Linked DNA regions of Homo sapiens. The protein of the gene in region 2 purifies or fractionates together with the protein of the main gene of each other region. This does not show direct contact. Each region holds a gene or a part of one and is shown on either strand. Other genes may lie near its edges.

Region 1 (2,604 bases), on a different chromosome or scaffold from region 2:
GCATTTAGGATGATTTTTTAAAGATTTTTGAAACTATTTATATTTTTGTCTTACAAATGATCACTTTTAAGTGGACTTTCTGTAAGAATGTACAACTCAAAAATTTGCCAAGTATCTATCGGATCCACACAAATCCTTAGAAAGGTTTTCTGTGTAGTCTTCACTAACGCAAGTCCTTGGGAATGTTTCACTTTTACTGTAGGATCTTGAACACATTTCACAATAATGAAACTATAAAGTTTTTATGCAGTGCATTCGTTATTAACTATAAATAACATTTCTATTAAAAAAGAAATCTGGGTAGTACAGTTTCTTCCTTTGTAGTAAGAGCCGAGAAGACTGAGAAGTTGATTGGACACTACCATCACTACCATCATCCATCTCCAGAACTCATCTTGCAAAACAAACTCTGTACCCATTAAGCAATAATTAACTCCCCATTTCCTTCTCCCACCAAGTCCTAGTAACTGATATTCCACTTTGTTTTTATAAATTGGACTTCTCTAAAAACTTCATATAAATGGAATCATGCTGTATTTGTCCTTTTGTCACTGGCTTATTTCACTTAGCATAATGTCCTCAAAGTTCACCCATATTGCAGCATATGTCAGGTTTCTTTGTTTTGTTTCTTAAACAGATGAGGCTTTATTCTGTTGTCCATGCTGCCAGACTGGAATGCAGTGGTATGATCATAGCTCACTGCAGCCTCAACCTCCTGGGCTCAAGCAATACTCCTGCCTCAGCCTCCTGAATAGCTAGGACTATGTGCATGCACCACCACACCTGGCTAATTTTTTTCCCCCCACTGTGGAGATTGGGACTCGCTAAGTTGCCCAGGCTGGTCTCAAACTCCTGGACTCAAGCAATCCTCCTGCTTCAGCCTCCCAAAGTGCTGGGATTACAGGCATGAGCCACCCCACCCAGCCCTGCTTTTTGAAGAATGAATGATAGTCCATTATATGTATGTACCACATTTTGGTTGTCCATTCATCCATCAATGGACACTTGGGTTGCTTCCACCTTTTGGCTATTGTTAATACTGCTGTGAACATGGGTACACAACTACTTCAAGATCCTGCTTTCAGTCCTTTTGGGTACATACCCAGAAGTGGAATTGCTAAATCATATAGTAATTCTATTTTTAATTTTTAGAGGAGTTGCCATACCGTTTTCCATAGCAGCTCCATTTTATGTTCCTACCAACAGTGTAAAAGAGTTTCAATTTCTCCACATCTTCATCAACACTTCTTATTTTCTGTTTTGATAGTAGCCATCCTAATGGCTGAGGTGGTCAAAATTTGCTTTTTACAAATTATGAAAATGGGATAATAGCAAATGCCTAGCACAGTGTCTAGAAGATGGTAAATGTTAAGTATCAAAAAACTTTTGATAAGAGGTATTAAGTTAAATAAGAGGTATTAAGTTAAAATCTTTGCTGTCATAAATGGGAAATATACGGCTACATTGAAATTTGCCAAATCCCAATAGTGTCTATTATAGATTTCCCTCTATGCAGGCACATCACTAAGTTTTTACTAAGGCATTAGCAAATTACTGATTATGTATTCACCTCCTAAAAGGAATCTGCAGCCGAGCACAGTGGTGCACATCTGTAATCCCAGCTATCCTGAAGGCTGAGGCAGGAGGCTTGCTTGAGCCCAGAAGTTTGAGGCAGTAGTGTACTATGATTATGTCTGTGAATAGCCCCCACACTCCAGCCTGGGCAACATAGTGAGACCTATCTATAAAATAAAAGAATCTGCAATATAAAGGAGGCCCAGAAAATGAAAAGCTTGAACCCAAAGAAATAGGTCACTATTAGTGACATTCCAGGTGAGATTGGAGAGGGCCCTAAAGTGATGCCACTTATCAGCTCATGCCTCAGCTCCTATTCCTCTGCTACAGGTGGCCCATCCCCCAAGGGCACTGTGGCACAGATGAGGTCCAAAGCAGGTTTGGTCTTTGCTAGATCTCTAAAGGAAATATAAAGCCAATTTGCTAGACATTTACTCTTCCAAATACATATCAGAGTGACTTTAGAAGTCAAAGAACCCAGAACTTTAATAACCTTAAACAAACAAGCTCATTCCAATAATTTAGCTTCCAGTCACATATGCAGACCCTAGGCAAAGACTTTTTTGTGGGAAATGGGACAGGTGCTGTACTTTCATTTCTTCCTTGCTGTGGAAATAGACTCTTAAAAAATGTAGAGATGGGGTCTTGCTACATTGTCCAGGCTGATCTTAAACTCCTGGCCTCAAGCAATCTTCCCACCTTGGCCTCCCTAAGTGCTGGGCTGACAGGCATGAGCCACTATGCCTTGCTAAGTGTTTAATAGAAGAGTGTGAATGGCAGAGGCAGAAGGTTTGGTGGATCATACAGCCTTACAGTCTCTTCAGAAACATCACTGATATTTGCTGTTGAGTCAACCTAGCAACCAATTCTTGTCCCAAAGATATGACACTGTTCAAAAGGCACCTCAGAGATGCCAGTTTCATCTCTTTTCAATGCCCAAAACTAGAGCTTGAAAAGATGGATATCTATCAACAGACATGATTTGTAATGTGTCTTTACTGTATATTTCATAAAATATAAACACATAAA
Region 2 (3,927 bases):
GAAATTCTGGGGTAAATCCTTCTATTATAGCATCAAAAAAGAAAACAGGAGAAATACTTCACAATTAGAATCTTTAAAATCAAAGCCACAAATCATAGAGAAAATGCTATTTTCATAAGTAACACTTAGTGTTTATTATATGCCAAGCACAGTGCTTCACCTAATCTTCACAACCATGTAAAGCAGTTAGCATTGCCTAATATATATATATACAGATATTTTTTCATTATGCTATACTAGGTATATTACATAGAGTAATATACACAAGACTAATATACATAGTATAGCATAATGAAAAAATAATATAGTAATATACATAACATAGCATAATGAAAAAACGTGTGTGTGTGTATAAAACACATTATATACACTCAGAAGAAACTGAGCCACTTAGAAATTAAGTGGTTTGGGCTGGGCGCAGTGGCTCACGCCTGTAATCCTAGCACTTTGGGAGGCCGAGGCGGGCGGATCACGAGGTCAGGAGATCAAGACCATCCTGGCTAACACGGTGAAACCCCGTCTCTATTAAAACAAAACAAAACAAAAAAAATTAGCCGGGCGTTGGCGGCAGGCGCCTGTAGTCCCAGCTACTCGGGAGGCTGAGGCAGGAGAATGGCGTGAACCCGGGAAGCGGAGCTTGCAGTGAGCCCAGATCGCGCCACTGCACTCCAGCCTGGGCAACAGAGCAAGACTCCGTCTCAAAAAAAAAAAAAAAGAAAAGAAATTAAGTGGTTTGTCCAAGCTCACACAATTCTTAAGTGTTACAACCCTGGCACTGTGGATCCAGAGCACAAGCTCTCAACCATACGAGGACTAAGCTCTAATTTTTTATCTTACCCAAATTCCTTTCTAAGGGGTCTGGAGAGTCATGCCCTACAAACCATAAATTCTCATCAGATGGGTTTTATTTAACCCTGTATATCGTGACTTACTTTCCAATCTGACTCTGGCCTAACAAGGAAGAAAATAAAAATGTTTTACCCCAAAATATATTTCCTTGTCGTACCTTAAAACTCCCCTGCAAAGTCTCTTGCAGGAAAAATCTGCATTTGGTGAGAATTCCCATCTCCCCTTGTTTTCCCTCCTTCCTTCCCAGATCCAGGAGATAATCAACTAAGAGCCAGGCACCCTTTTAAGTCCAATATAAAACAATTTACAACCTGCTCTCTCTAAAGTCTATCTAAGAGCTTCCTCTGCACAATAAAACTTGGTCTCCACAATCCTTTATCTCTAGCCTGAACATTCCTTTTTATGGATCCCAGGTCTTTAGATAACCTCAACCAGATAACGTTTACATTTACCGATTGAGTTGCCCCGCCTTTCTAAACTAAACCAATGTATTTCTTAAATGTATTTGATGTCTCACGCCTTCCTAAAATAGATAAAACCAAGCTGTACCCCAATTTCCTTGGGCACATGTTCTCAGGACCTCCTGAGGACTGTCACTGGCCATGGTCACTTGAATCTGGCTCAAAATAAATCTCTTCAAATATTTTTCAGAGTTTGATTCTTTTCATCAACCCATATCTATACCTTTTTACACCAAAAACATGTCTTTGCAAAATTACAGTTATTGGGAATAAGGCTTTTAACCTAATCTGGGGACTATCAAATATACTAATAAATATTTTTCTTAAAAAAATTCTTTGTTTAAACTGCCAGATTCCAACTTCCAGAAAAATTCCAACAGAAATGCAACCGAGGGTCTAGAATTACTATCCTAAATCTCCGAAAATGTACAGGGGGTGGCGGGCGGGGCAGGGACGGCTCTAGGTGAGCAGGAAAAAGCTTGGAACTCAGTCTTCCAATGGCGAAAGGGAACGTGCTCCTGCTGGGCGGGACGGCGGACGGCTGGCGGCGGCGCGGCCTCCAATTCTCGCCAACGCGCCCCGCACCCCCGTGCACTGGCGGGCCCTCCCCTCGGGCGTTGCCTCCCACCCACGCCCGGCGGCACCGCACCCCGAGGCGCTTCACGTCACGGAGCTGCTAGGAGACGGGCGGGGCTCCGGTTCCGGGTAGAGGCCTGGGACACGGGGAACTGTAAGGATGGGAGGAAGGCCGCGCAGGGGCACCAGTTCTGCCGCCGCGGCCTAGCGCCCCAGGTCCCGGAGAAGGGGCACCAGGGCGGCCAGGGGCCCAAGCTTCCGGGGCACGCTCACCCGCGCAGGACTGAGGCCGCGTCCGCTCCCGCTCCCGCTCGGGCCGTCTCCCCCTTCCAGGCTCCAGGCCAGGCTTCCGCCCGACAAGCCCTGACCCGCTCGTCAGGACTGCGGCCCGGGGTTGGTGGTGCGGAGCGGAGCGGAGCGGAGCGTAGAGTAGAATCCACTTCCCCGGGTTTTGGGAGGGGGCCGCAGCCCGCTTTCCGGGCGGCGGGGAGGCGGGGCCACCGCGGGGGCGGAGCTCGGCTGGGAGCCGGCAGTGGCTTGGGAGGGAGGGAGGGAGAAGGAGAGGGGCGGGAAGGCTCCTCGCGTTTTCCACGCCCCCGCCCAGCTCTGGGCTGGTGGTAAATCTCGGAACTGGTCCGGGCTGGGCGAGTTCTGGACGGAGGGGCACGTTTGGGAATCCTCTTGGAAGAATTTACGTAATCGAATGGGCTGGGACTGGTGGAAAAGAGTTGGACCGTCCGGAAAGAAGCAGGAGGGCGGCGCGGGGGCCTGGCACCCTTAGAAAGTGGGAAGTGTGAGTGTAAAAGGGAGGGGCACTTCTGCCCGTTGGGCCCAAAAACCCTTTTCTGGCTTTAGCTAGTAGAGCCACTCAAAATTTAAACGGAGTCAGCTTGATGTGGCATATATGATAAGCTGGATAATATTTCCTGCACCACCGCACCCCTCCCCCCACCCCAACACCAACAAGAAAATAACACAAGTCACGGTTCTTGTTCCTTGTGGGCTGACATTTCCCTGTTTTGCCAACCTCTGGAGCCACGTGTCCCAAGCAGCTTGTAGTTGAGAAGTGATGGGGGAGAGGAGACAGCACGGGAGAGGAAGGAGGGAAGCCAGCTTATATTCAGGTGCCTTAAGTATTTAAAAATATTTTCAGTGTAATAGTCGATGCATTCAAAAGAGCATATTTACCAAATATGTAAAATTTAAAGTATGCTAATGAAACTATCACTCCACCACGTTATCAGTATTTAGCATGTATCTATGCATCTCCAGGATTCTACTCCTGGCCTCTTAGCTCACCACCACTATCTTCAGTTTTGTCCCTCTTTGCCATTTTTAGTGGTTTTATCATATTTGGATGCATTCCTGTGTATTGGTGTATTTTTCTTCTTTTTGAGCTTTATAAAAATACATATAGCCTGGAATTCGCTTTTTATCACTCAACATTTGTTTTTTTGGTTCATCCAAGTTGTTACGTGTAGTAACAGAACATTTATTTCTTACTGCCTAGTCAAAAGGAAGTTTTCTCCTGTCAGGAATGTATTCAATACTGTAGCGGATAGGATTATAAATGCACTTTAAGTATTTTCTTTATTGATGGGAACCACACAGACTAAATGTATCAGACTTCCCAAGTTCGTAGGTCACATACCTATAACAGAACTCTTTTCCTGGGTTTTGTGACATTTCTAATTGTTGTAATTTCTTTTGCCATTATAAAAATTAGTCACTTTTGAACCTAATTTGTATTCATCATTCTGAATCTTTTTCTTTAAAAGCCTCCTCTTTTCCAATTATATAAGCTCATACCCCATAAAACCTGAATCTGCCCCTAGTAATTACTAATAAGGCTAGTAGGAGCATTCTTGTTCACCTTCTGTGCATGCGCTGGACTCTAATTTGAACCTAGGATTAGCACTGCGGCATCAGAGGCTATGGGGGCTGTTCAGCTTTCAAAGATAAAGCAGAAATGTTTTCAAAGTGGTTGTACCAATCTATACTGCCACCAGTACCGACCACAATTCTCTCTAAATCCTCGTTA

The links.
Region 1: the proteins of DDX59 (region 2) and ARG2 purify together in Homo sapiens (affinity purification with mass spectrometry; one large-scale study listed by BioGRID and IntAct). This does not show direct contact.

The regions. Positions count from the first base shown.
Region 1 is NC_000014.9:67,627,374-67,629,977, reverse strand, and holds part of ARG2 (arginase-2, mitochondrial precursor), read right to left. Parts: exon of another isoform or gene 638-2,604; intron 1-637. UniProt on the Homo sapiens protein: May play a role in the regulation of extra-urea cycle arginine metabolism and also in down-regulation of nitric oxide synthesis. Extrahepatic arginase functions to regulate L-arginine bioavailability to nitric oxid synthase (NOS).
Region 2 is NC_000001.11:200,667,608-200,671,534, forward strand, and holds the start of DDX59 (probable ATP-dependent RNA helicase DDX59), read right to left. Parts: upstream 2,301-3,927; 5' UTR 2,160-2,300; exon of another isoform or gene 1,007-2,159; intron 159-1,006; exon of another isoform or gene 1-158.